2 linked regions of the Homo sapiens genome follow. The protein of the gene in region 1 purifies or fractionates together with the protein of each later gene. This does not show direct contact. Each region holds a gene or a part of one and is shown in the gene's direction. Other genes may lie near its edges.

Region 1 (15,520 bases):
TTTTAGGGTTAGCCATTCCAGTAGGTGTGTAGTAGTATCTCACTGTGGTTTCAATTTGCATTTGCCTGATAACTAATGATATTGAGCATCTTTTCATGTGCCAATTGGCCATGAATATATCTATTTTTTGGAGCATCTATTCAAATCTTTTGGCATTTGTAATTAGTTGGTTTTTTTCCTATTGAGCTTGAGGAATTATTTATAAATTCTAGATCCCAGTCTTCTGGCAGGTATATGTATTGCAAACGTTTTCTTCCAGACTGTGGCTTGCCTTTTCATCTTCTTAAAACTAAAGAACAGCCTGGGCATGGTGGCTCACACCTATGATCCCAGCACTTTGGGAGGCTAAGGCGGGAGAATCGCCTCAGGTTGGGTGTTTGAGACCAGCCTAGGCAACAAGACAAGACCCCCATCTCTACAAAAAATAAAATAAAAAACTAAAAAATCAGTTGAGCATGGTGGCACGTGCCTGTGGTCCCAGCTACTTGGTAGGCTGAGGCAGGAGGATCACTTAAGCTTGAGAGTTTGAGGCTACAACGAGCCATTTCCATACTGCTGCATTCCAGCCTGGTGACAGAGCAAGACCCTGACTCAAAAAACAAACAAACCAAAAAAAGAAAAAAGAAAAAAAAAAAACCAAACCCTCAAGAGCAGATATTTTAAATTTAAATTTGATGAAGTTCAAGTTCTTTTTTTCTTTTTTGAATCATGTTTTTTGTGTCCTATATAACACTTGGCTGATGCAAAGTCAAAAAGATTTTTTGTCTTATTCTAGAAATTTTATAGTTTTCACCTTTATGATTCATTTTGAGTTAATTTTTTGTATGGTTTTTGGTCTGAGTGAAGCTTCATTTTTTTTTTCCAAATAGATATCCAATAGTTACAGTCACATTTGTTCAAAAGATTATGCTTTGCTTATCGAGTTACTTTTACAATTTTGTCTGAAGCAATTGATCCTATATGTACAAGTATGTTTCTTGATTTTTTGTTATATTCTATTGGTCTATATGTTTGTCCTTTTGTGTTCATATTTTAAAACTATAGCAAGCAGGCAGCAATTCATTGTTGCTAAATACTCTTGTGATGTCACATGCTAAAGCCCTCAGGCACAATTCAAATCATATAGTCCAGGTTCCTGGGATAAGAAACCCTGGCTCCAGCTTACTGTCCTGGGCTCCTCTTATATCTGAGAAAACAAAGAGATCATAAGAGTAATTTCAAACATTAATTAGGCAGACGAAGTAAGAAGGAAAAAAAAGACATGTGGTATCTTTTTGCCAGAATTCTGGTTATTTAAGTTAAACTTGGTTTGGAGAGACAAAGAAAAAAAAGTGAACTGCAGGTATGTGCCTCTGGCTTAAAGTGAAAAAATATGACCCTTATAAACAGTGAGACACCATCCCATTTTATAATACAATATTGCAACGTGACAATGGACGTTGGGTTAAAACAATCTCCTTCTTAAAGGTAGCATATACTTTCTTCCTCTTAAGAGAATATTTTCTTGTAAATTTGTTTGAGTTCATTGTAGATTCTGGATATTAGCCCTTTGTCAGATGAGTAGGTTGTGAAAATTTTCTCCCATTTTGGAGGCTGCCTGTTCACTCTGATGGTAGTTTCTTTTGCTGTGCAGAAGCTCTTTAGTTTAATTAGATCCCATTTGTCAATTTTGTCTTTTGTTGCCGTTGCTTTTGGTGTTTTGGACATGAAGTCCTTGCCCATGCCTGTGTCCTGAATGGTAATGCCTAGGTTTTCTTCTAGGGTTTTTATGGTTTTAGGTCTAACGTTTAAGTCTTTAATCCATCTTGAATTGATTTTTGTATAAGGTGTAAGGAAGGGATCAAGTTTCAGCTTTCTACATACGGCTAGCCAGTTTTCCCAGCACCATTAAATAGGGAATCCTTTCCCCATTGCTTGTTTTTCTCAGGTTTGTCAAAGATCAGATAGTTGTAGATATGCGGCGTTATTTCTGAGGGCTCTGTTCTGTTCCATTGATCTATATCTCTGTTTTGGTACCAGTACCATGCTGTTTTGGTTACTGTAGCCTTGTAGTATAGTTTGAAGTCAGGTAGGGTGATGCCTCCAGCTTTGTTCTTTTGGCTTAGGATTGACTTGGCGATGCGGGCTCTTTTTTGGTTCCATATGAACTTTAAAGTAGTTTTTTCCAATTCTGTGAAGAAAGTCATTGGTAGCTTGATGGGGATGGCATTGAATCTGTAAATTACCTTGGGCAGTATGGCCATTTTCACGATATTGATTCTTCCTACCCATGAGCATGGAATGTTCTCCCATTTGTTTGTATCCTCTTTTATTTCGTTGAGCAGTGGTTTGTAGTTCTCCTTGAAGAGGTCCTTCACATCCCTTGTAAGTTGGATTCCTAGGTATTTTATTCTCTTTGAAGCAATTGTGAATGGGAGTTCACTCACGATTTGGCTCTCTGTTTGTCTGTTGTTGGTGTATAAGAATGCTTGTGATTTTTGTACATTGATTTTGTATCCTGAGACTTTGCTGAAGTTGCTTATCAGCTTAAGGAGATTTTGGGCTGAGACAATGGGGTTTTCTAGATATACAATCATGTCGTCTGCAAACAGGGACAATTTGACTTCCTCTTTTCCTAATTGAATACCCTTTATTTCCTTCTCCTGCCTAATTGCCCTGGCCAGAACTTCCAACAAATTTACAAGAAAAAAACAAACAACCCCATCAAAAAGCGGGCAAAGGACATCAACACACACTTCTCAAAAGAAGACATTTATGCAGCCAAAAAACACATGAAAAAATGCTCATCATCACTGGCCATCAGAGAAATGCAAATCAAAACCACTATGAGATACCATCTCACACCAGTTAGAATGGCCATCATTAAAAAGTCAGGAAACAACAGGTGCTGGAGAGGATGTGGAGAAATAGGAACACTTTTACACTGTTGGTGGGACTGTAAACTAGTTCAACCATTGTGGAAGTCAGTGTGGCGATTCCTCAGGGATCTAGAACTAGAAATACCATTTGACCCAGCCATTCCATTACTGGGTATATACCCAAATGACTATAAATCATGCTGCTATAAAGACACATGCACACGTATGTTTATTGCGGCATTATTCACAATAGCAAAGACTTGGAACCAACCCAAATGTCCGACAATGATAGACTGGATTAAGAAAATGTGGCACATATACACCATGGAATACTATGCAGCCATAAAAAATGATGAGTTCATGTCCTTTGTAGGGACATGGATGAAATTGGAAATCATCATTCTCAGTAAACTATCGCAAGAACAAAAAACCAAACACCGCATATTCTCACTCACAGGTGGGAACTGAACAATGAGATCACATGGACACAGGAAGGGGAATATCACACTCTGGGGACTGTGGTGGGGTGGGGGGAGGGGGGAGGGATAGCATCGGGAGACATACCTAATGCTAGATGACGAGTTAGTGGGTGCAGCGCACCAGCATGGCACATGTATACATATGTATCTAACCTGCACCATGTGCACATGTACCCTAAAACTGAAAGTATAATAAAAAAAAAAGAGAATATTTTAGTTCATGATTATTTATTTTTGCAAAACATCTATTTAATTGTTTCAAGTTTGTGAGGAACAAAGTTATTGGACAGGAAGTTGTAGCAAAAATTTTCTATTTCTCAAAAGTAACTGCTGTAGGTAAAATGTCTGATTTACCAAAAGTTTGAACTGGTTCGCAAAGGCAGTAAGTTCATTCCTAGTTCGGGTCTTTACAAATTATTGTGAGATTTAATAATAATAAGACCCTGCAGTTGTTTCTGTTTAGCAATTGCTCATCTCAAACAGGTTCTTTGTGGTTTTTCCAAAAACAGACAGCATATTTGGCTTCTTCTACTATAGATACTTTCCTACGTCTATTTCTACATCATTCAACATGGCAAGGCTAACAGAAAATCAAGGTCAAATGAGGAAACTCAGCAAATGGTTTTTATCTGGCTTCACACTGACCACCAACTGGTAAACACTATAAGAAAAACTGTGCAGGATATAAATGATAGGTAAAAGTACATTTTTTCACTATGGGCCCAGGCTCTCATAATAGAAGCAGGCCTAAGATTTAAAACAAATGATGTGGGAATCAATTCAAAGTGCTGAAGAATCACAAATTGCTTTTCTATTTAACTAAAAAATCTCCATGCTTTAAAAATTTTCCGCTGGTAGCTTTTTCTCCTGAATTTGCACTCTTAATAATTTTATCCTATAATCCCATCTGATGATGTTATTTTAGGGAAAACCAGGTTAACAGAAGAACATTTATCAGATGTGTAGATCATAGCAAATTCCTGGCACTTAATAAACACAATACTGATAGACTAAAGGGAGGTTAAAATGAGGTGGAACACGTAAGTTATCTCTAACAATGATTAATTTTTGTATATTTTACTGATGAGAAAAACTCCTTTAACCAAAAGCTGCTTAATATTTTTATTAACTGCTTCAGTTCCCTTCAAGTTCTTAATACGTTATTAATATAACACAGCATGAATAAAAAATATGATAATCCATTTTTTAAAAAACAAATTCAAGAATGCCAAACAGGTGACTTACGAAGGGAGCAGGGAAGCCTAAAGGGGCCTCATTTCTGTCTTCCTGGGACAAAAGGATAAGTAATTGACTGAAATGTAACTACCAGGACATAGACGCTCCTAGGATGTAAAAGAAAGTTGTCTGCCTCCCCCTCCCCCTCTCCCTCTCCCCACGGTCTCCCTCTCCCTCTCTATCCACAGTCTCCCTCTGATACCCAGCGGAAGCTGGACTGTACTGCTGCCATCTCGGCTCACTGCAACCTCCCTGCCTGATTCTCCCGCCTCAGCCTGCCGAGTGCCTGCGGTTGCAGGCGCGCACCGCCACACCTGACTGGTTTTCGTATTTTTTTTGGTGGAGACGGGGTTTCACGTGTTGGCTGGGCTGATCTCCAGCTCCTAACCGCGAGTGATCTGCCAGCCTCGGCCTCCCGAGGTGCCGGGATTGCAGACGGAGTCTCGTTCACTCAGTGCTCAATGTTGCCCAGGCTGGAGTGCAGTGGCATGATCACGGCTAGCTATAACCTCCACCTCCCAGCCGCCTCCCTTGGCCTCCCAAAGTGCCAAGATTGCAGCCTCTGCCCGGCCGCCACCCCGTCTGGGAAGTGAGGAGTGTTTCTGCCTGGCCGCCCATCGTCTGGGATGTGAGGAGCCCCTCTGCCCGCCTGCCCAGTCTGGGAAGTCAGGAGCACCTCTGCCCGGCCGCGACCCCGTCTGGGAGGTGAGGAGCGTCTCTACCCGGCCGCCCCGTCTGAGAAGTGAGGAGCCCCTCCGCCCAGCAGCCGCCCCGTCTGAGAAGTGAGGAGCCCCTGCGCCCGGCAGCCACCCTGTCTGGGAAGTGAGGAGCGCCTCCGCCCGGCCGCCTCCCCGTCCGGGAGGTCGGGGGCGCCTCTGCCCGGCCGCCCCTTCTGGGAAGCGAGGAGCCCCTCTGCCCGGCCGCCACCCCGTCTGGGAGGCGTACCCAACAGCTCATTGAGAACAGGCCATGATGACAATGGCGGTTTTGTGGAATAGAAAAGGGGGAAATGTGGGGAAAAGATAGAGAAATCAGATTGTTGCCGTGTCTTGAGTAGAAAAAAGTAGACATAGGAGACTCCATTTTGTTCTGTACTAGGAAAGATTCTTCTGCCTTGGGATGCTGTTGATCTATGACCTTGCCCCCAACCCGGTGCTCTCTGAAACATGTGCTGTGTCCACTCAGGGTTAAATGGATTAAGGGCGGTGCAAGATGGGCTTTGTTAAACAGATGCTTGAAGGCAGCATGCTCCTTAAGAGTCATCACCACTCCCTAATCTCAAGTACCCAGGGACACAAACACTGCGGAAGGCCACAGGGTCCTCTGCCTAGGAAAACCAGAGACCTTTGTTCACTTGTTTATCTGCTGACCTTCCCTCCACTATTGTCCTATGACCCTGCCAAATCCCCCTCTGCGAGAAACACCCAAGAATGATCAATAAAAAAAAAAAAAAAAAAGAAGAAAAGAAAAGGGCCCCAAAGTGACGTCAGCCCCATCTCAAATTCAAACCCCATAGTAAACGAACAAGATAGACCTTAACTACTGACTAATTCTCCAAAGCAAAAAGTCAGGAAAATAAAAAAATCTCGTTAAGCTGTAAAAAATAAAAATAAAAATAAAAATACATATCCAGGTACATACTCTTTCTTTCTTTGAGACAGAGGCTCGCTCTGTCACCCGTGCAGTGGCAGTCTCGGCTCACTGAGATCTCAGCCTTCCAGGCTCAAGCAATTCTTCGGCCTCCACCTCCGAAGTAGCTGGGACTACAGGCACTCACCACTATGCCTGGCTAATTTTTCGTAGAGATGGGGTTTCGCCATGTTGCCTACGCTGGTCTCAAACTCCTTACCGCAAGCAATCTGTCCACCTCGGCCTCCCAAACTGCTGAGATTACAGGCGTGAGGGATTGTAGGCGTGAGGGATTACAAGCATGAGCCACCGCGCCCTGCTATATTACTTATTTCTTAAACACCTGCAATTCATTAAAATACACCATGTATAAATTATAAATCATAATATTATCAAGAACTGTTATTTCTAAGTGCTGAATAAATGAATATTTCCACTCATTAAAAAAAAAAAAAGTTGTCCGTTCAAAGCCAGTGTCAAGTACCAAAAAAAGAAAATTATCTTGCGGCAGATAATGAGAAATAATGCAGGAGAGGAAAGAGGAACTTTAAAGGCTGTACGTGTAGGATTTTCTTTTTCTCTCTCGGAGGAAAGAACAGCAAAAAGCGAAGAGTGGGAAATGCTGGACTTAAATTCCTTTCTTTAGGTTTACGAACAAAAAAGGAAAGCGAGAAGAAAAACAGAATCAAGGACTTATACAGCAGGAAGTTGCCCTGTAAGCATTTAGTCCAGGGACCTGCCATTCTTATTAAGAGCTAAAACCAAAGAATTAGTGCACGAAAGTAGAAAGAAGACAAGCCGCCATTGTGGAAGGAGCGCAGCGGGACAGAGGCGCGCAGAAGCCTCACCAGACAACCAGGCCCCGTCCCCGTCCCCCGAACTGTGCGGAAAGCGCCACCGAGTCCAGGCGTCTCATTTTACAGCGGAAGACACAAACTCTGAGATCCAAATGACCTGCTCACGGTCACAGCACGAAGCCCGTGGGCCCTGTGTCTACAGTCACCAACTTCCAGGCTTGCGACTAAAGGGAGCCAACGAGCGCGTGAGCGTTTGAGACCAGCTGGCTGAGGGACGCCGAAAATCCCGCGCGGAGGAAGGCGGGAGAGCGCTACCGCTGCTACCAAGGCGGCGGCGCGGGCGCTCGGCCGGGACCCTTCCCTGCGTCGCCACCAGATGGCGCGCTCGGCCCGCCGTTCGCGGCTAAGCTAGGGCGGGTGGGGAGGGAGTAGGGAGGAGGACGTCGGTTGCCTTGGAAATGCAGGGCGCAGCAGCCGCTGCAGTGGAGCCGGTAGGCCTGGCCGGCGGGCTGAAAGGAAGTGCGAGCTGTCCGCCCAGGGCCGGGTATCCGCCCCTGCAGGCTGTGGAGGGGATGTCAGGAGACTGGCTGGCCTCTTTTCTTGGCCCCCGACTCCTTCCAGTCTGACACTGAAGACTTTATAAGCTTCCCCCCGACCACCCTCCACGGGCTCCACTCTCCACGGGCCTGGGCTTGCGCCGCTTCGAGATCAGCCTGGGGGTCGCGCCCTCCTGGTCTTGTCCACGAAGCGCCGTTCTTGGGCCGTTAGGAGCTGCTGGGAAGGGCTCTGATAGGCCCACTCCTCTTCTCCACCCAGGAGATGAGAAGGAGGGCAGGCCTTTTTAATCTGATCAGAATGTTAACCCATCTCTCCGCCTTGCGGTAGAACCCCTGGATACATTATTTGCCCTCTCGAAAGGCAGGCTCTGAATTTGATTCAGGTTTGTAACCTTCACGGTGCCCTCACACAGCCCCTAGCACACAGCAGACGCAGAGCAGACTAAGAATGCCTTCCATTCTTATGAGGCTTTATCACTTGACAGTTTTCCCAAAGCGTTTGGAGCCTCATAGCCCGGACAGCAACTAGGACAGATGGAGGAGGAAACAGGTCAGAGGTTCAGAGACTTGGCCTAGGTTATACAACTCTGTGCAGGAGCTGGGACTAAGCTCGGTCTTGCTTCTCTTAGTGCCTCTCTCACCAAATTCTGAGTCTAGTGAATGCTTTCTGAGGACCTCACATACTCTTGCATCCTTCTCAATACCAGCGCAATGCTCTTCCGCTGTAGGTACTTCATATGTGCTAAGTGTGTTATTGATGTCTTTTACCCTCATATCCCAATTCATAGATTGGTTTCAACTTCTTGCTCTGGATACTACAACATTCTTCTAAAGAAAACACTTGGTTTCTTTTATGAATTTGTCACATTTGTACAGTGCCATGTTGTTGCCTCACTCCCTTCCTTATCCCATAATTTTCTGCTGGGCAAGAGAGAGAGTTGAGGAAGTGATTAAGAGATGGGAAAAAGTGCCCTATCTAAGCCAAAAAAAAAAAAAAAAAAAGGAAAAGAAAGATTCCTGTGATGACAGAGGGGAAAAATAATGACTGGGTATTTATCAGTCTATGTGATAATTGCTCATGGATTGCCTTACAGCCACCTCCAGAAGATCCTCTTTAGACTCACTACTGCTATTTGAAGGTAGAAAGAAGCCTTTTTGTTCTCTACCATTATTATTGCATATTTTTCCCTTATCCTCATAATAATATTTTCATAGTTATTTTTCTTTTCTTTGTTGATAATTCTAAAACTGAAGGACAGTAAGAGTGGGAAAAAAATGTAGTTCTGGTTACTAGAGAAGTTAGTGTAATATACTGCAGTTCAAACTATTTGATATTAGCAACTCTGGATCAGAAGACGGACTAATTTTAAAGCTAAGACTCCAATATCTTTGGGTACTGCAGTAGAAAAATGTGCCATGACTAAAGGATTGGTGAAGAAAATACATGCTAATGTAATGTACATCATCAGTCGTCCAAGTGAAACTTGAAAATGTCACTCATCTAGATATTTTTAAATACCTTGATTTTAATATATGATTTTAACATATTTCCAAACCGGGCAAATTTTACATTTTAACACTAACAATTTTGGTCCCTATCATATATACATAATCAATATGAAAAGCGGTCTCAATTTTTAAAATTAATGTTTTAGGTGGTACTATTACCACTGAATGGCTTTAAATTAATTCAGGATTTTTAAAAACATTTACTGGAGACCATTTCTAATTAAGTTAAACATGTGTTCTGTGCAATCTCATTTGCAGTAGCCACAAAACGAATAAACTACCTGGGAACCCCCTGCCCAGTGCCATACCCCCAGTGCCTGTCCCCAGATCGAGGCTTGGGCCCCTTCAGCCATGTCTATCACAAGCACCACCAGCATGTCTGACAAACTGCCCTACAAAGTCACTGACATTGGCCTGGACTTCTGGGGATGCAAAGCCCTGGATATTGTGGAGAACCAGATGCCGGGCCTGACGTGCATGTGGGAGCTGTACTCAACCCTCCAAGCCCTCGAAGGGCACGCGCATCACCAGTTGCCTCCATAGGACCCATGGAGATGGCCATCCTCATTGAGACCCTCATTACCCTGGGTGCCAAGCTGCAGTGGTCCAGCTGCAACATCACCCAGGACCATGAGGCAGCTGCCATTGCCAAGGCTGGCATTCCAGTTGTACGCCTGGAAGGGCGAAACAGAGGAGGAGTACCTGTGGTGCACCAAGCAGACATTATACTTCAAAGACGGCCTCCTCAACGTGATTCTGGATGTCGCTTGGGCCCCCACCAACCTCATCCACACCAAGTACCCACAGCTCTTGTCGGGGATGTGAGGCATCTTCAAGGAGACCATGATTGGGGTCCACAAGCTACACAAGATGATGGCCAATGGGATCCTGAAAGTGCCTGCCATCAATGTCAACAACTCCGTCACCAAGAGCAAGTTTGACAACCTCTCCGGCTGCCAGGAGTCCCTCATAGATAGCATCAAGTGGGCCACAGACGTGATGATTGCCAGCAAGGTAGCAGTGGTAGCAGGCTGTGGCGACATGGGCAAAGGCTGTGCCCAGGCCCTGTGGGGTTTCAGGCCCATGTCATCATCATCAAGATCGACCCCATCAACATACTGCAGGCTGCCATGAAGGGCTATGAGGTGGCCACCATAGACGAGGCCTGTCAGGAGGACAACATCTTTGTCACCACCACAGGCTGTGTTAACATCATCCTTGGCTGGCACTTTAAGCAGATGAAGGATGATGCCATCATTTGTAACACTGGACACTTTGACATGGAGATTGATGTCAAGTGGCTCAACAAGAATACTGTGGAGAGAGTCAACATCAAGCCCCAGGTGGACTGGTATCAGCTGAAGAATGCACACCACATCATCCTGCTAGCTGAGGGTCAGCTGGTCAACCTGGGTTGTGCCATGGGCCACCTCAGCTTCTTGATAAGTAACTCCTTCACCAACCAAGTGATGGCGCAGACTGAGCTGCAGACCCACCCAGACAAGTACCAGGTTATGGTTCTCTTCCTGCCCAAGAAGCTGAATGAGGCAATGGCTGAAGCCCACCTGGGCAAGCTGAATGTGAAATTGACCAAGCTGACTGAGCTGCAAGCCCATTACCTGTACTTGTCCCGTGATGGCCCCTTCAAGCCAGATCACTACCACTACTGAAAGCCAGACCTGCCCTTCGCCTTCCAACTGCTGTCCTTGTCCAGGCCCTGCCTCTCCTCCCTAAGAGCAAATGGCACCCACTTTGTGATTGGTTTGTCAGTGTCCCCTATTGACTCCCTGGGGCTGGTCACTCAGTTTTTGGCCTCTGCTGCATCCCTCATACTGTTCCAAGTGTGGCAGGGGGAATTGAGAGGCCCCTCCTCAAGCCTTGGTCATGATAGGGGTACAAGGGAGACAGCCACAGGGAACTATGAATTCAATGATCTTGGAACTTCTCACTAAGTCAGTCCTTCCTTAGCCTGGAAGTTGGTAATGGAGTCACAAAGCCCATATACTTTACCATCTAGGCATTCACCCGGTCTGTGGACTTATACCTGTGTGCTTGGTTCACAGGTTCAGTGGTACCTCAGCCCATGACAGAAAAGCAGCAGCTATATTGAAGGGCAAAGAGGAACTGTTGTTTGAATTTTCCTGAGAGCCTGACTTAGTGCTGGGCCTTCTCTTCCACCTCATAACAATGAGGTTGGTACTTTTAGTCTCTGTTTTATAGGAGTTAGAATAGACTGTTAAGGGACAACTGAGAAAGGACAGAGAATTGATAGCCAGAGGTTGAGAGGGGCCATAAAAACATAAAAGCAAGCATAGATCTGCTACCACTTTGTAACAAGATAATTCCTATCACAACCCTGGGTCAAAAAGAGAATAATCTGGTCCATAATGTTTATGTTAAAAAAAAATAAAAAGCAGGAAGGTGGGTAAATAAAAATCTTGGTGCCTTAAAAAAAAAAAAAAAAAAAAAACCCCTAGGAATACAGCTTACCAAGAAGGTAAATGAGTTCTACAATGAGAATTTCAAAACACTGCTGAAATAAGTCAGAGATGAACACAAACAAATGGAAAAACATTCAATGTCATTTTTCATGGAATTAAACAAAACTATTCTAAAATTCATATGGAACCAAAACAGAGCCCTAATCACCAAATCAACCCCAAACAATAAGAGCAAAGCCAGGGGAATCACACTACCCAACTTCAAACTATATTACAAGGCTACAGTAACCCAAACAACATGGTACTGTTACAAAAACAGACATATAAACTAATGGAACAGGTTAAAGGACCCAGAAATAAAGCCACACACCTACAACTACTGGTTTTGTGACAGAGTCAATGATAACAAACAATGGGGAAAGAACTCCCTATTCAATAAATGGTGCTGGGATAACTGGCTAGCCATATGTGGAAGATTGAAACTGGACCCCTTCCTTTTACCACATACAAAAATTAACTCAAGATGAATTAAATACTTAAATGTAAGACCTAAAACAACAAACACTCTAGAAGAAAACCTAGGAAATACCATTCTGGACATTGGCCTTGGCAAAGAATTTATGACTAAATTCCCAAAAGCAACTGCAACAACAACAAAAAATAGACAAGTGGGACTAATTAAAGAGCTTCTGCACAGCAAAAGAAACTATCAACAGAGTAAACAGACAACCTGCAGAATGGGAGAAAATATTCACAAGCCATGCATCCAACAAAGGTCTAATATCCAGAATCTATAAGGAACTTAATTCAGCAAACAAAAAGCAAATAACCCCATTTAAAAATAAGAGAAGGACAGGCTGGGTGTGGTGGCTCCCGCCTGTAATCCCAGCACTTTGGGAGGCTGAGGCAGTCAGATCACAAGGTCAGGAGATCGAGATAGTCCTGGCTAACACGGTGAAACCCCGACTCTACTAAAAATACAAAACAAATAAATAAATAAATTAGCCAGGCATGGTGGCACGTGCCTGTAGTCCCAGCTACTCGGGAGGCTGAGGCAGGAGAATCACTTGAACCCTGGAGGCAAAGGTTGCAGTGAGCCGAGATTGTGCCACTGCACTCCAGCCTGGGCAACAGAGTGAGACTCCGTCTCAAAAAAAAAAAAAAAAAAAAAGAAGGCAAAGAACATGAACAGATACTTTTCAAAAGAAAACATACATGTGGCCAACAAATATATGAAAAAATGCTCATCATCACTAATCATTAGATAAATGCAGATCAAAACCATGATAAGATACTATCACACAGGAATCACAATGGTAATTATTAAAAAGACAAAAAACAACAGATGCTGGTGAGGTTTAGCAGAAAAGGGAACACTTATACACTGCTGGTGGGAGTATTAAAGAACACGTGGAAAGCAGTGTGAAGATTTCTCAAAGAACTTAAAACAGAAATACCATTCAACCCAGCAATCTCGCTACTGGATATATACCCTAAGGAAAATAAATCATTCTGTGAAACAGACACATGGACTCATGTTCATCGCAGCACTGTTCACAGTAGCAAACACATAAAATCAACCAAGATGCTAATCAGTGGTGGACTAGATAAAGAAAATGTGGTACACATACACCATGGAATGCTACACAGCCATAAAAAGAACAAAATCGTGTCCTTTGTAGCAACATGGATGCAGCTGGAGGCCATTATCCTAAGCAAACTAATGCAAGAACCCAAAAGCAATACTGCATGTTCTCACTATAAGTGCAAGCTAAACATTGAATAAACATGAACACAAAGATGGGAAAAATAGACACTGTCTATTACAAGCCATAAATTGTGGGGAAAAAAAAAAGTACAAATTGTGGGGCCACAAGGCGAGGTTATTTATCACTAGTTAGGACAATAAGAAGAGGCTTCTCAAGATGAATTTAAATATTAAAGGATACAACATCTCTTTTTGAATTCCCAAGATGAGGGTTTATAGAAGTAGTTAGGTGTCACTGGCATTAAAGGAATTGTATTTTGTTGAAGATGAGTACCATGAATGGTTTTGAATATGTATTTCAGCTTTGCAATTAACATTATAGTGAGGTATGTGCCTTCTAAGTTAGATTGCTCTTTAATAAGGCTTTTGGAAGTACTGCATTACTACTACTACTATTACTTTTATTAGCCTTACAGTTTATAGCTGAGAATCCAGTATAATTTGGGAACTGCAGTTCAAAACCATGCAGTTAATGGCTCAGTTTCTAGCTAGTTAATGGCTGAGCCACAACTAGACTTCAAGACTCCTAGCACCCAAATAGAGATCTTTTATATCATGCACTCATGCCTTGATGGAATCTTATTCTGAACTTCTGTCATTGCTAATGCTGTTAAGTAAATATCTTTCATTTTAATCTACATTGTATGTAAAACATTAGCTATCAAACCTCAAACTCCATTTTATATGTCCAGAAAGGTATTAGGGCAGAACTGCCATCCCTCCCAGCCTCCACAGAATTAGGAAAGGAGTCATTGGGAGGCTTCTGGATATTCACGCCTTCACAAAGTCATTAAAATAGTCATTTTGGGCCAAGTGCGGTGGCTCATGCCTGTAATCCTAGCACTTTGGGAGGCCAAAGTGGGTGGATCCCTTGAGCTCAGGAGTTCAAGACCATCCTGAGAAACATGGCAAAACCCCCTCTTTACAAAAAATTAAAAAATTAGCCAGGCATGGTAGCATGCGCCTGTAATCCCAGCTACTCTGGAGGTGATGTGGGAGGATGACTTGCACCTGGGAGGCAGAAGTTGGAATGACCCTGCATTTTTAGCTTGGGCGACGGAGCCAGACCCTGTCTCATTAAAAAAAAAAAAAAAAAAAAAAAGAGAGTCATTTATTTTAAGCTTTCTAGATACTGAGCCAGGATGCTGAGATAGTGCAGGAAGGGATACACTGTGTGTTCTATAGGTAACTTTGCAGAGCCAAAGCAGTATGGGATAACTACATATGAAAAAAATGATTGTGATATGTCCATTTTTAGTAAATAAACTTCTGGCTTTTCACTGAGAGGCGTTTGGGAAATATTTATTGCAAGATTTTATGACAGAAAATGATGGAGTAGATTCTGGAAAGGTTGGCTGGAGTCCTGAGTCTTTCAAACCCAGGATGCTCACCTGTCCTTACATCACGGTGTATGTTTTAGAGACCTCAGACACAGTCGGGAGAGGAAAACACACATGGCCACAAAAGGGAGGTCACATGCTGGATGAAGATCTCCCTAGCATTATCTGCATGATTTTGCAATGAATTTTAAAGCTGCTCATTTTTTTAAAGTTCTGCTGCAGTGTGCTTCTGTCTTCCTATCTGTCTGAGAAGGGTCTTGCCTCATCTATACTTTATAATTGGGGGCCAGGTAAAGCACCATGCACAGAGCAGGCATTGAATAGATGTTTGTAGTTACTGACAGATTCGACGTCTATTTGTCAGATATTCTAAGTGTAACCTTCCTGGAAGATAATTGCTTTTACTTTGTGAATATTTTTCTAGGATTCTCACCCTTTACTGAGAGAAATCTTCTGGGTGGTCAGGAACTGTGAATCCTTGTAAATGTTTATGAAAGTCCCCATGATTTATAGCACATTATCAAATGCAAAAATAGATGTTGAGGTACTATCATTAGCCCATTGGAAAAATGCAGCTATTAAGCAGACAGTCCAATTGGCTTACTAATTTTCTTAAAGTGTGTGAAACAATGAATCTTAATAGAGTTTATGTATAAAGCATTTGTGCTTTAATGGGTCCACATTTTCACTCATATTTTATTAAAATCCTTTGCCATAAGCTGCAGTTAGGTAAGTAATTATACATTAGTCAGAGAGTTAAAAACATAAAAGCCAGGTAACTAAGGTAATTGAGCAGGATGAGGTCATTTTTCCTCCAGCACCAGATGGGTACCACAGGTAAAAACCGTAACACTTGATCTCTTCCATATGACTTAGAAAGAGATTAATGTTGGCATTGGTTTTAAC
Region 2 (15,707 bases), on another chromosome or scaffold:
AGGCTGGTCTTGAACTCCTGACTTTGGGTGAGGTGATCCCCCTGCCTCAGCCTCCCAAAGTGCTGGGATTACAGGTGTGGGCCGTGGTGCTCGGTCCAGAATAGTCTTTTAAACATGCAAATCTTTTCATGTCAACCCTGCTGAAAATCCTTTTCATTGGTTTACTGTTGCTGTTGGGAAAATATCTTAAATCCTCAACAGGTCACAAAAGTCGAGTCAATCAATAAGCCCTAACAGATCCTCTCTACATAAACTCTTCTACTTAGCATAACCCTTTTTCAGAGACACCAGCGTCTGTTAGTTGCACATCTATTTGTTTCTTTTGGCTTCTATCTCTGCACAGAATTAGGGAAGTTCATGGAGATGCCAAAAGATTGGCACTAATTCTCTAACCTTTCTCACTCCATGCAAAGAGATTTGGTGGAAGTTTTATTATTGTTTTTATTTCCTGTGGAAAAAATGTATTATTTGCCTCTATTCACATTCTATAAATTTAGAATATCTTACAAAAGGTATAAAAACCTAAACCATTTTATTATGATATCTCAAAACCAAATTATATAGGGATAAAACAACTCCAGCATTAATGTCAGAAGGAGCTCAGGGGCCCTTTATATATCATGGTATTTTAAAACAAATATTTAAACCTATCAAGATTGTTAGATTATATTTTTCTAGTGTATGGTAGAAGTGGTTTTAGAATCATATTGGGCAACACTTTTTCACCTCTCTAACCCTTATTTGCCTTGTAAGGATTACAGAGGTAAAATGGGATAATAAAGTTACCTACATTCCAAAGTTATTTTAAGGACTAACTAAGATGAAGTATGTAAAGTACCTGGCACAAGTGTGGCACATAGTAATGATCAATAGGTGCTAATTATTACTATTTTTGTTTATGATAGTCACAAGTCATTGTTTTAAAAGTTCTTTTAGGTTCATGTAACATTTTTTTCTTCAGAGAAAAGAAATACTGAACAAGTCTATCACTGGTTTTGTTCTATCAAATATGGGTAAATACACTTTTTCAACTGAAAACAGTAAACATTAATCCTATTACTCTGCAGAGAAGAAAATAATCTTACTGCTCTTCAGAAAGATTTTACTATTACTCCTTATTGCACATAAGCCCTGTCTACCTGGTGCTATTGTGAACTAATAATCAATATCCTTTTTTGCCATGTCACTTCCAGCCCCTAGATGAAGAAGCTTGTCCCGTTGGGAGTCCTCAGGCACTAAGTCCACTGCACCACTTCTGTCTGTGCGATGATTTCTGCCAGTGGTGGAGACTCTGCTGTCCCCTGGTGGCATTTGCCGTCTTTCATTTATTCAATGTTCTGGCTCAGAAGACCTACAGTTATCCTTAGATACTCGTAAATTTAGCAGGCAAAACCTGAGAGTTGCTATCTCATTCTGATCTGTAATTATGACTCTTGTAGTGGAAGCATCACTTTCTCTATGTGGTTCAGAGCAGAAATTCTTGGTTAGGAAACTCTCCCACATGTTACTGTCTCATCAACACCAGTGCTTCCTAGGCAGAATTCATTTCGTCTCCTCTTTAAGGAGTTACATGCTAAACTGTTCTTTGGAGTTCTATCTTTGGTTTCAGAGTCTGATTCTACAGACAGGATCCTGAAATTTCCTCTTCTAACTCTGCTATCCTTCCTAATTTCTTATCTTTGACAAAGAGGTTGGATGTTACTTCAAATTTGTCCAGGATCCTAGTAAGGACCTCAGTGATCTACAACCTATGCCCATGTAAAGGAATAAAGTTAGATCTGTATGAAATACAACTTTATTTTTCTATAACTCCGCTGAAATTCAATTCTGAATTGCCTATTTTAAAGGGCTGGTAATATCATAATCCGTGTCTATTTCTGGTATTCCTCCTTTCTCTCCCTTGGGGTTGGATCTAAATTCAAAAAAGCCTAATATAACAGCAAATTTGGGGGTTTGGAGCCTCTGGTTCTCAATGTGATCTGCCTACACAGGCATCCAGTGAGAAATTCACGATCCTAACTCAGTTATCAGTTCTACAAATCTCTAATGAGTTCAGAGTTCCCTTCTGCAGGCTCCCTTTAAATGTGGAGGCTGCCTTTCTTTTCCACGTCATACATGGGTGTACAGGGATATTGTTTTGTTTCCACTTCAAGTTAGGGCATACAAAATCTCTGTGACCCTGTCTAGTTCCCATCTACCTAATCACACCATGAATCTTGTTCTCTTTCTGGGGCCTGTTGCCTTCCTGGGACAGTTCAGGAATCAAGGAACACGTCCCTCTGCTCCTGGATTTCACAAACCCATCTATGGAGGTTTGGTGGCTTCCCAGGTATGTGACGGGGACCATGGTAAGACTCCCTGTCTCTGGGACTGTGGAAATCTGCCTTGCCATTGCCTCCTCTCTCACTTTCCCCTGTGCACCATCCACAATCTTGTCATCTCCCAACACAGAAAGTGGGTTTTTTGTTTGATTTTTTTTCTGAGAATGGAAAGCCATGATCTTATAAAAGATGTTTTGTCCAAATCTTTTGCTATAGCCAAGAGTCTTATCTGTTTCTGTAAAGCCAAGCCTTTTGCAACACCAAAGACAGGAAGAGATTCCCTTTGTTCCCTCTGCTTTCTTTGCTGTCACTTCTTTCTTTAAAAGCAAAGAGCACAGAATGCCTAGCTGCTTGTTTGGGGTGATGGGCAATGAGATTGAGAAAAGAGAATATTGGGGAGGAAGGCAATCTATTAATATTATTCTACCACATTTATGAGCAACAGGCAGAAATTATAACAACAAGGCTATCAGGAAAACTCCCCACTCCATCTGGATGAAACTGTGTTAACCCTAAGAAACGGGGCATGCTTTTGCCTCTTCTGCTCTTTTCCTTGCTAAGCACAGACAAGATGTCAGAACTCAGAAGTCCTGTTCCATGTAATCAGACTGACAGTAGAACAAGTGTTTTCTAGGAAAAGGTTTATCTTTTCACTGGAGATCCAGTTCTGAGTGGTTTTGAAAGGTACAATTCTTTTATTTGGTTTGGTTCTAGGAATATGACAGTTTATATAAAGCTGTTGCTTTACTGTGAAAAACCTAGACATAGTGAGAGTAACATCTGAATTAATCTTTTACACCCAGAAACCAGTAGAGCAGAAAGAGTCACTTTTTTTTCCTTGTAAGAATGCAAAGGAATCCTCAAAACTCCTTTGCAGTTTTAATATCCATTTTGAAATATGTTGATGTAACTATTATAATGAAGTATTAGCTACTTATGGTTAGTAATTGCTTACCCTTATTGAGTACTTACTGTGTGTCAGATACTAAAACACTTTTATTTAATATTTTTCATTTAATCTTCATAATAACCTTAGGAGATACATATTATTATTCTGATTTATAGGTGAGGAAAGTGAGGCACAAAGAGGCTAAGTAACTCGTCCAAAGGCACAAAATATGATGTGTTACAGACTGAATGTGAACCCCAGAATTCTGATGGCAGAGAAGATATGCCTACCTAAGTATATTCATCATGATAATAATGGTTGAGAGGCTATGGCATATGGGTGTCAATTCTTGTAATAAAATGTTAAATTTAAGCTAGTAGATCAGAATAAAAATGTTAATGTGAACTTATTGTGATATATGTGAGACAAAGTTACCAGTTTGCAGCCAAGACATGAAACTGGATTAGTGAATGATTTTGATGCTCTAGTTTATCAAGGGATACAGAAGTTTTGTTCTGAGCCGTCCTGGGTCTTCAGGGAACCACCATGAATAAATACCGTGAATAAACACCAGGAATTGGAGAACATAAGAAATTAACATTTTATATTTATGTTAATGTGCTGGAATTTGGAAGGATCAGCATGAAAATCTGATACACAGAATCATTTTGAATTACACTTAAAGGCATGGAAATAAAATTTCTTGTTAACATTGTTTCATAAAATTCTCAAAGCCATTAGTATTTTGTATAATTCATTCATTCAAAAATATTTACTGAGCACCTACTATGTGTCAGGCACTGTTAGAAGTGCTGGGGATAGAGTAATGAAAAAAACAAAGGTTCTTGTCCTTGTGGAGCTAAATTTTGTTTTTTTAAACTCCTCTTACTATCTATCATTCCCAAGGAGCTGATTTTTAATGAGTATGTGAAATAAGTAAGTAAACAGTATATTACAAAGTTATAAGTGCTATGGAAAGGTAAATTAGGGGTATCTTTGAGTTTGCTCCTCTTAGTGTTCTTTTTCCTTTCTATTTCAGGGATAAAATGGGCTAGGTTATAAAACTGTTACTCATTTTGAAAACTCAATCTGAAGGAGCTGGACAAAAATACAAACCAAAGCATGACTTCTGATTTCAACATTGAAACCAGTTGATATGGTTAGGTCCCAACCCAAATCTCATCTTGAACTGTAATCCCCATAATCCCCATGTGTCTAGGGAGAGACTCCAGGTGTCTAGGGAGATCGGATCATGGAGGTGGTTTCCCCCATGCTGTTCTTGTGATAGTGAGTGAGTTCTCATGCGATCTGATGGTTTTATAAGAGGTTGTTCCCCTTCGCTCCTCACTCTTCTATCTCGTGCCACCACGTGGGAAGGTCCAAGTGTGCTTCCCCTTCACCTTCTGCCATGATTGTAAGTTTCCTGAGGCCTCCTTAGTCATGTGGAACTGTGAGTCAATTAAACCTCTTTCCTTTATGAATTACACAGTCTCGGGTATTCCTTTATAGCAGTGTGAAAAATGGACTAATACACAAGTGGTCCACACCCACCTGAAGTAGCAGCACTATCTAAAAAACTGGCTTCTCATGGAGAAATAACATTCTCGTTGCCCATTTTCACTTTATAAGTATATATAGTTCCCCTCCTTTGAAGATGCTCTTTACCTGTTCCCTCCTTACCTGTCTTCCTTGCCACATATGCTCCTGTGACTGATCTTACTCATATTTCTGACCTTAGAAAAGGCTACTGTGTTCAGTGCCCCTGCTGTGTGCTGAATGTGATTGTCTTTTTCCTATTAAAACACTAATTATATTGCATTGTAGAGGTTTATTCAATAGTCTTTCTCCCCCATAAGACTGTATAATTTGTGTAGTTAAGGATAAGGGGCCAGGCGTGGTGGCTCATGCCTGCAATGCTTTTGGAGGCCAAGGTGGGCAGATTGCTTGAACCCAGGAGTTCAAGACCAGCCTGGGCAACATGGCGAAACCCCATCTCTACTAAAATGTTAAATTTAAGCTAGTAGATCAGAATAAAAATGTTAATGTGAACTTATTGTGATATATATGAGACAAAATATAAGTTATCAGTTTGCAGCCCAGACATGAGACTGGATTAATGAATGATTTTGATGCTCTTGTTTATCAAGAGACACAGGAGTTTTGTTCTGAGCCGTCCTGGATCTTCAGGGAACCACCATGAATAAATACCATGAATAAACACCAGGAATTGGAGAACATAAGAAATTAACATTTTGTATTAACTTTAATGTGCTGGAATTTGAAAGGATCAGCAAGGAAATCTGATAGGAAATCATTTTGAATTACACTTAAAAATTAAAAAAAAAAATTACCTGGGCATGGCGGCATGTGCCTGTAGTCCCAGCTACTCAAGAGGCTGAGGTGGGAAGATCACTTGGGTCCAGGAGGTTGAGGCTACTGTGAGCTGTGATTGCACCACTGCACTCCAGCCTGGGTGATAGCACAAGACCCTGTCTCAAAAAAAAAAAAAAAAAAAAAAAAAGGATAAGGAATATGTTTTTTCATCATTGTATCATCAGCACTCAGAATGGAGGCTGGCATACAGTAAGAGCTAAATATTTGTCATATAATTGAATCAACTTTTGCTGAGTATCTATGTGGACATGCCTATGTATGTATGCATTTTGTTAATAAGGCAAATTTGTGATTACACAGAAAAATTCAATCAATATAATATCCTTACTGATTTGTCCTAAAATTTCACCGACACCTATTATTTATTTTTTCACAAAAGGTATGTTGGTATTTTAATTAAAAACGACTCTATAAATTGGTTTTATTATTTATTTATTTATTGTTTAGAAAATATTTTTTGTAGAGATGAGGTTTCACCATGTTGTCTGGGCTGGTCTTGAACTCCTGGGCTCAAGCCTTCCACCCACCTTGGCCTCCCAAAGTGCTGGGATTACAGGCGTGAGCCATCACACCCGGCCAACAAATTGGTTTTATTATGAGTAGCTAGTAATACATGTAATTTCTCTTTTACTTTTTAAAATATTATGAAAAAATTTAAATGTGCAAAATAAAGAAGAGTAGTATAATAAACTCCCATGCACCAATCATCTGCCTGGCCCTTATGTTTCATCCACAACCCAACCCACTTACCTGACTCCAGGTTATTTTAAAACAACTTCAGGCACTATAGCATCTAATTTTCAGTAATTTAAAAAAGAGTGTATAAGAATGCTTTAGAGATTACAAGGCAAATGCTTACACATTATCTTTTTCCATTCTCATACCCTGTTCTTTGGCACTTTACCGAAAAGGAAATGAGAAGGGTTCAGAGAAATTAAATGACTTTTCTTTGGTAACATGCCTAGTATACATGTAGTCAGAACTTGAAGCTTTTGCTTTTTTTTTTTTCTTTTTTAACATCAACTTTCGTGCTTAGTCCAGTGTATAACATCACAGGCAAATTCAAATTGAGAATAGGAATCAGTTGTTCTTTAACCGTAACCCTTCTAACTTTTACTTATCCTAAGACCGGGTAGCAAGTAGGGCAGGAGCCTTCATCTAGAGGGATGGTGACAGCTCTGATAGGGGAAAATTAGCACTGGTCTTTCCTTCCAAAAAGCCACTCTGGCTGCTGCTGTTGACACAAGGCTCCTGGCTTTTGAGACATTATTTGAGTGCTGGATTCCAATACTTTTTACTTTCTCATAAGAAAAAAAAATGTGAAGCATCTAAGGATATCTCCTGCCTTATTGATAAAGTAAGCCTCAGGCTGAATCCAAATTGCTGAGCTCCAATAGAACTACAGGGCAAAGCATCTACACAGGGAATTGCCACTCTTCTCCAAAATTAGGCTTTATTAAGAGGCAAGGCTATGTTCTCCTCATATATATGTGTGTGTGTGTGTGTGTGTGTGTGTGTGTGTGTGTGTGTAAAAAGTAAATGTTTTACACAGATCCCCATAAGGGAAAAGTGGGCTATAGTAATACAGTATTTTTTTGTTTTTCTTTTTTTTGGGGGGGGGGGGGACAGTTTCGCTCTGTCACCCAGTCTGGAGTACAGTGGCGCGATCTCGGTTCACTGCAACCGCCGCCTCCCGGGTTCAAGCGATTCTCCTGCCTCAGCCTCCCGAGTAGCTGGGACTACAGGCAAGCACCACCACGCCCGGGTGATTTTTTTTTTTTTTATTTTTAGTAGAGACGGGTTTCATCATGTTGGTCAGGCTGGTCTCGAACTCCTGACCTCAAATGATCCGCCCGCCTCGGCCTCCCAATGTGCTGGGACTACAGGCGTGAGCCACCGCGCCCCGCCAAATACAGTTTTATCAGGAATCAAAACTGTGCTCTCTTCTGGACTCTCAGCTTTAGCTGTTTGGAGCGTTTAGTCTAAGCCTTACCACTTACATTGTAATGTGAAGATCAAATTGTAACGACATGGCAATAATAAGGCTCCTATTGGTTGGGTACCACCAGTTTATGCCAGGCATTGTACTGATTCATGTCTTTAATCCTCAAAACGACCTTCCGAGGTCAGCGTTTTTATTCTTTTTCCAGAGGAGCAAACTGAGTTTCTGAGAAGTCACACCCAACTTGGTGGCAGAGCTGACGCTGGCATGGGGTTGACTCCAAAGCTCTCTACGCCACGAGGGTGGGAAAGACAACGAAACACAAGCGAGAAGAATAATGAGAACTGGGATCGCAACTTCATTAAATGAGAAGCCAGGAACAGGTGGCGGAGGGCACGCGGTTCGCTGCACGGAGTCGCTCAGGCTCTTTGAAACACCGCGCGGGGGAGCGGGGCGGTGCCGGAAGTCAGGCCATGGCTTCCGGTTCTTGCGTCGGAAGTGGCCGGTCAGCGTCGCTGCCGGTCTCCGGCGGAGACGGACTCTGGAGTTTGGGCGGCCCGGGCGGCCACTAGGTACTCTGATATTCCGTACTAAACACGTCTGCAAGTCAAGATGTCGCACCCGTCCCCCCAAGCCAAGCCCTCCAACCCCAGTAACCCTCGAGTCTTCTTTGACGTGGACATCGGAGGGGAGCGAGGTGAGCGGAGTCTGACGCTCGCGGAAAAGCCCCGAGGAGGCGGGGGTTCCCGGGATTTGGGGGATTCCAAGGGCGGAATGCGGCTCCGGCCGGTGACTGCTCAGTTTCGCGGAGGGGATGGCTGCCTAGGCTGGTCCGCCGGAGCAGGCCCGGAGATCTAGGGCTAGATCGATCCAGCGCCCTTGTATCAATGCCATCGGTGGTGCGGAAGTTTCTGGAAATTTCTAGTTCGGGAATTGTGGCGTCCTTTAGGTTTGCCTCCTGATTTGGTGGCACTTCCACGCCACCTTTGCACTACCAAGTTAGCATGAAATATTTTATGTTTGCAATGGGACAGTTCGGAAAGCATATCCTGGGATATGCGTCTGCTGGGCCCCAGGAAACTATATTTGCCACATGAGATAATATATCAGCACGTGCTGTGTTATTTATACGTTAAAGGGACTTGTTTGCTCATTGCTTTTGCCTTATTACTGATTCTTAATTTAGAGGTCCGTTCAGATGAGCAAACATTTTCTCTTAATTTGCCATTGGGAAAATGCGCTCAACGTAGTGATGGTGTTGCCTAGGTTACATAGCCGCTCAGAAGTTCCTAAGGCCTGGTGAATTAGGGAGCGTGTTGCTTTGTAACTGGATTGGCCTTGTTCTGGAACACGTTGGAATTGCTGGCCAGGCAATGTGTTTGAATGCATGTACAGGACACACACACGTTTACACGTACATTCAGTTTGTTGCAACTAGCTAGGGCTAGGTTTAATCTCACCTGTCTTAGCTGCTATCTAGAGGAGGAATTTTTACAGCTTTTGCTTCAGAGGTTGCATGAGGCAGTTTGCTCAGAGCACAAAGGCTGCAGGTATACGTAACACGTGGCAAGTCCGCCCACCCAAAGACTGTTTAATTTTCTCCCGTTGGTTGCTTGGTGATTGGAAATTCTCAGTACCTCTTGAAGAAATTACTCAGGATTTAAAACTATTTGTATTTAATGATATCTCTTACATGGTGCTAATCTTTTGGCTACTATAATTGGTTATGATCCTTAGTGTAATGTTTCAAATCTGTTTATATACATACATGACAGTAGGTAGACTAAATTTGAATATTAGAATAAAATAAGATTCACTAATTCTAGTGAGTATATTCAAAGGAAATGAAGTTTGTATGTCAAAGAGGTATCTGCACTCCCATGTTCATTGCAGCATTATTCATGATAGCCAAGATAATGGAATCAAACTAGGTTTCCATCTACAGATGGATTTTTTTTAAAATTTGATATATGTGCACAGTGGAGTACTATTCACCCATAAAAAATAATGAAATCTTGTCACTTCTGACAACATGAATTAATATGGAGGACATTATGTTACATGAAATAAGCTGGGCACAGGAAGACAAGGCATGATCTCACTTACATGTGGTTTCTAAAAAGTTGACCTTGAAGTAGAGAATGGAATGGTGGATTTCAGGGGTTGGGTAGATGTTGATCACGAGAGACCTAATTTCAGTTAGAAAGGGGGAATAAATTTAAGAGATCTATTGTATAACATAATGACTATAGTTAGTAGCAATGTGTTGTGTTCTTGAAATTGCAAAAAAGAAAAATTACAGTAAAGGGGAACTTGGTAATTCATGATTGATCTGCTACCATAATTATACCAACCTTCTTTTTATCATTTGTCTATTTGGTTGTTTTGCATACTGACAAGATTTTCTTTTCTTTTAGTTGGTCGAATTGTCTTAGAATTGTTTGCAGATATCGTACCCAAAACTGCGGAAAATTTTCGTGCACTGTGTACAGGAGAAAAAGGCATTGGACACACGACTGGGAAACCTCTCCATTTCAAAGGATGCCCTTTTCATCGAAGTATGTGTAAATTTTCTTAATCTTGTTATTCTTCATACAGACAAGTCCTGTTCTTTAGGATTTGGGGAAGAAAACACTAAGTAGGAAGTGAAGCTTAAAAAGTACTATTAGCGTCCATGTCTGAGGCAGTAACGCAGTTTCGTAAAGGTTAGGCTGTGCGAGGTGGAATTACTTATGGTACTAAGGTTTATCTATAGAGAAATGGACTCCCCTAGCTTTACCCATCCTCTCATTCTCCTTCACTCTAAGATGATTTGATTGAGAAAGGAAGGCCGTAGTCAACCAACCTTAGGTAGCTTCATTGCCTGGTGACAAAAAAGTTATGCATAGACCGGGCGCAGTGGCTCACGCCTGTAATCCCAGCACTTTGGGAGGCTGAGGCGGGTGAATCACGAGATCAGGAGATCGAGACCATCTTGGCTAACGCGGTGAAACCCCGTCTCTACTAAAAATACAAAAAATAAGCCGGGTGTGATGGTGGGCGCCTGTAGTCCCAGCTACTCGGGAGGCTGAGGCAGTAGAATGGCATGAACTCAGAAGGTGGAGCTTGCAGTGAGCCGAGATCACGCCACTGCACTCCATCCTGGGCGACAGAGTGAGACTCTGCCTCAAACAAACAAACAAACAAACAAACAAACAAAAAAATGCATAATTTTTGGGCCTGAGTGCTTGGGAAGGCAGCAGATTTGAAGATTCAGTGTTTTGGGCACATGGGTGATAGTGTGGTCAAAATATGCCATTTCATACTGCTTATTACACTTTGTAATGAATCATACTTTTGTTTAGTGATAATGGTTCTCCCAATAGACTGCAGGCTCTATGAGTTCAAGAACTGTATGTTTTCACCATTTTGTTTTTGGCATCTAATACAGTTATTGAGTAAGAACTCAGTAAGTATTTGTTTAATAAATAGGCAAATAAGCAATAATCACAAGAGCAACATTTTTTAAACGATTTATTAAGAAAAAATTAACTTTTTAAAAAATATTTAAAATGTTTACTTTCATGTTTAATAAAAACTTGAAATATGCTAATAAACTATATGCAGAAAATATTTAACATAGCAAGTGTGAGACTGCTATCTTTAGAAAGGTCTGCCTGCAAGAGTAGCACTTGTTTGGAGTCTGGGAACTTGACACTTGTACCATTTCCTAAATAGTAATGGTGATTTACTATGCCTAGCCTATTTGTACAAACATGAATGTGTGCTCTCTTTTGGGGAGTCTGGAATTTTGGTACATGCTAGGTAGAGTGTGCCCAATAAATACCTTGGGTGCTGAGTCTCTAATTGGCTCTCCTGGGCAGAAATACTGTGTACATGTTGCTGCATTTTTGTTGCTGGGGGAAGTGTGTGTTCTGTAGCACTTCATGGGACGGAGAAAGCATAAGGAAGCCTGCACATGGATTTTTCCAGACTCTGCCTGTGTCTTTCCCGTCATCTCGCTGTGTATCCTTACCACTGTGATCCAACCACATACTGATTTGTGTGAGCTCTAGGGTTCTCTGAACATGAAAGCAATCTTGGTAACCTTTGACACAAAGTGATATATTTGCTGAAAATTTTCCATTAGGGTAGAACAAATCTACTGGGAATCATTGGTCTGTATTCAGCAGACATTATTGAGTAACTAATATGTACTATGTGTACATGCACATAGTTATAAGGATGTAAAACAATACAGTTGGTGTACTTAAGGAGATCATTGCTGGAAGGGGCAGATCATAATGCCATATGTTATGTAGGCAGAGTCAAGATACTATGGGAGAAAAATTAGGACATACAGCTTAGGGATTTCAGTGACAGTTTTATAGGGGAGGTATCATTTGAACCGATTTTCTGAATGTTAGCAGGGATCAGGCAGTGAAAATAGGTTGGATTCAGATGGTGAAAAGCCTGAAGCGTTTGGAGTTGCGGAGACGGGTGGGGAGCGACAAACAGGAGAGAGACATGACTAGAGTCATGCACTACAAAGTTGTCTTACGTACGTATCCATTAGTAAGCATTGCTAAAGGCATCCATGTCTCAGTCACTAATAGCCATTTTCCTTTTTTGTAGTTATTAAGAAATTTATGATTCAGGGTGGAGACTTCTCAAATCAGAATGGGACAGGTGGAGAAAGTATTTATGGTGAAAAATTTGAAGATGAAAATTTCCATTACAAGGTAAAGTAGAGAAAATGCATGTTATTGCTGATAAAAAGATTGTTATATATCTGGAATACTTGTTGGATTAAGACACCAAAAAATGTTTCAAGTGTGCTTAGATTCTCCATTTCTTGTAATAGGAATCACTTTTGTAAATAATGGTTCTTTAATATGGAAAAGTTTTCATTCAGTAATGATTAATTCAGCATTATTTCATTGTGATCCAGTTTTTATATGCTTCAGTTAAGCCAGTGAGTTTTTAAATGCGACCAGCATCTGGCAAAATTGTTTCCAGGAAAAATGTTTCCATTGTTGGAAGGATGGTAACTTGTGCATCCTTATCCTTGAATTTGAAGAGCAACAAAACCATCACTAATATCCAGGATGTCAGGGGATTTGCACACTAGCAGATATAGTTAAATGTCCAAGCTCCTAAAGGACTTCAGTGGTGCCTGTGCCTTCTTGTCTTCGTTGTCCCAAGATGTAATTGGGGTATATTGCATCATTCAAGTTATAAGAATGGACATGTAAGTACAAAAGTAAAGTGATATTTTTGGAAATAAGGAATATGAGCAAGGGTATTAGGATAATTTGAAAAAATGTCGTCAGTCTTCCAGTCAGTGTTTATTGAGCCACTATCACTGGCACCAAAGGGTTTATAAAAATGAAAGGCCTTGATGACAAGGAATTTATAATCCTACCTCAGAGACAAGATTAAGATACATGGGACTACTGGAGAATAATAGTATATAAATAAATGCTAAATTGATTGAATATCCTTGCTTGTATAACATTGCTAATACTGTCTATATACTGCAGGAGAAAGATGTGATTTATGCAGTCTGAATTATTATGGAAGTCATTGAGGAGGAATGGCTACTTGGGCTGTGCAGACTGGGTCTTGCAAGGCGGCAACATGTCTGAGATTTGGTTAGGCAGGAACTGTAGTATTGATGCAGAATTTAAAAAGGGACGTCGGTGAGGAAAGACAAAGGCAAGAGACGTTGAGGAAATAAAGTTCTAGTTACTGTTGTACCAAAGGAAGCTACCAGAAGGATGAAAACTAAAGGTGATGTGATGATCACATTGACATAGAGAAAAGGGGCCTATAGACAAGACACATGATTCTTGCTTTCTATAAACGTGGTGGCCTTAAAATCTGAATTTGATTTAGACTGAGGGGAGTAAAAGGCATTTTGGTGGGGTGGGGGGTGTCATGAAACATTATATAACATGAGAGTTACGGTGCATGCACCAACAAGGAATACATTTAGAAAGCCTAGGAGATAAAGTGAAAAGGTTAAGAAATTGGGTTTCATAGATCCTTTGACAGGATTATGCCAAGGTAGAATTTTGATTTCAAGATGTATGCAGCAGTTTCTTTTGAGCACTCTCCGAAGAGGTGATTCATCTGGGATGAAAACCTAATCCAAATCCTGTATGATTTGGATTCTTTTGAGATTAGGAAAGTACCAAACTGAATGTCTTGGGTAAATTCAGTATCCCATTATTGTTCCAGTTTATTGATGTTTTGTAAAGGAAGACTTATACTGTAGGCATATTTATGAATTTGGAAGACCGTTCAGGTCTTCCCAGAAAAAAAGAGCATTCATCATAAAGAGGGCAAAATATATTACAAGAGTTTCATAATGCTGCATCTTCATTTTAAAGGTGAAGTGTAAGTATTTTCTCATGGCCAATTTAGAAATAACCCTCCCCCCGACTATTGTTTCTGTTACCTATTTACTTTGATAAGGTTTTTTAAAGTTTAAAGTGATTAAGTGCCCCATGTTTTGTGAATTAAAGGTTGCAGTTTATAAAAAAATAAAAAGTAATTAAAAAATTTTATAAGTGAAAAGTAAAAAAAAGTAGTTTGATCTAAATGGTAGTATAGTGCACCCCAGTTTTATGTTCAGTAAAAGAACAGTTCAGACTAACACACAATTCAGAAAAGAACACATCTAACCTTGGTTTTCTTTTAATTTTTATTTCTACAGCATGATCGGGAGGGTTTACTGAGCATGGCAAATGCAGGCCGCAACACAAACGGTTCTCAGTTTTTTATCACAACAGTTCCAACTCCTCATTTGGATGGGAAACATGTGGTGTTTGGCCAAGTAATTAAAGGAATAGGAGTGGCAAGGATATTGGAAAATGTGGAAGTGAAAGGTGAAAAACCTGCTAAAGTAAGTAAAAAGTTACAGTGAAATACACTTATTATCTTAGTTGCTATCTTTTTGAGACGGAGTCTCGATCTGTTCCAGGCTGGAGTGCAGTGGTGCGGTCTCGGCTCACTGCAGCCTCTGTCTCCCAGGTTCAAGCTATTCTCCTGCCTCAGCCTTCTGAGTAGCAGGGATTACAGGCGCGCGCTACAACACCCGGCTAATTTTTTCTGTATTTTTAATAGAGACGGGGTTTCACCATGTTGGCCAGGCTGGTCTCAAACTCCTGACCTTGTGATCCGCCCACCTCGGCCTCCCAAAGTGCTGGGATTACAGGCATGAGCCACCGCACCCAGCCTGTTAGTTGCTATCTTAAAGAAATATAAGTAAAAGGATCAGGTGATTATTAGCTGGAAAAATGTTATAATAATTTTGGGTATAGGAGCCAGGATCTGCCACTTTTTTTTTTTTTTTTTAACTTTTCTACAATGGGAAAGACAATTAGGGTAGTTTTAAAGGAGATTTTTATTATTTCAACTTTCATTTGGTGATCTTTGCTAGTTTACGTTAAGTCTTCCTATACCTGCAAAACTGTTCAGTTGGTATGTATAGTAGTACATAGTGGAATGAGGATAATAAGCCCAAAATCTTGTCTGGATTGTAGCATTAACTAGAGGCTTGGCCTTGACTTTGTTACTTAACTTTTCCACACGTGTTTTCTCCTGTCTAAATTACTTATGGGTTTAGACTAGATTATCTCTGAAGACCCTTGTGTACTTAATGTCTGTGAATCAAAATGACCTTAATATTGGCTGGGCATGGTAGCTCATGCTTGTAATCCCAGCACTTTGGGAGGCTGAGGTGGGAGGATCACTTGAGACCAGGAGTTGGAAACCAGCTTTGGCAACATAGTGAGATGCTGTCTCTATTAAAAAAAAAAGAAAAAAAGAAAAACCCCTAAACGACCATAATACTACCCAGCCTAAGTGACAGGGTTGTGAGTGGGAGTTGGAAGCTCAGTTACTTGTAGGAGGTAGGCTGTCACTCAGTGTATGACAAGAATAGTAGTAAACCGGAAGCTCATGCCCCACCTAATGCCACTTACATAGACAATGATAAAATTGCCAACTTATTCTGTGTTTATTGAGCTCCTGAATAGCAATAAAATGCTTATGTAAATACTAACATTGTCGTATTAGTTGGAATGTATAAAAACAGCATTATAGTACATAAATGAGCCTTCTCACATAAATCTGTGAATTGGACAGTGCTGCACATGACTTCAGCTGTATAGCT

Evidence for each region.
Region 2: the proteins of CCDC83 (region 1) and PPID purify together in Homo sapiens (affinity purification with mass spectrometry; 2 studies listed by BioGRID and IntAct, with this or other methods). This does not show direct contact.

The regions. Positions count from the first base shown.
Region 1 is NC_000011.10:85,847,646-85,863,165, forward strand, and holds the start of CCDC83 (coiled-coil domain-containing protein 83), read left to right. Parts: upstream 1-7,737; 5' UTR 7,738-7,939; intron 7,940-8,019; exon of another isoform or gene 8,020-8,106; intron 8,107-8,636; exon of another isoform or gene 8,637-8,695; intron 8,696-15,520.
Region 2 is NC_000004.12:158,715,740-158,731,446, reverse strand, and holds the start of PPID (peptidyl-prolyl cis-trans isomerase D), read left to right. Parts: upstream 1-8,050; 5' UTR 8,051-8,158; coding exon 8,159-8,243; intron 8,244-9,963; coding exon 9,964-10,104; intron 10,105-12,160; coding exon 12,161-12,267; intron 12,268-14,246; coding exon 14,247-14,435; intron 14,436-15,707. UniProt on the Homo sapiens protein: PPIase that catalyzes the cis-trans isomerization of proline imidic peptide bonds in oligopeptides and may therefore assist protein folding. Proposed to act as a co-chaperone in HSP90 complexes such as in unligated steroid receptors heterocomplexes.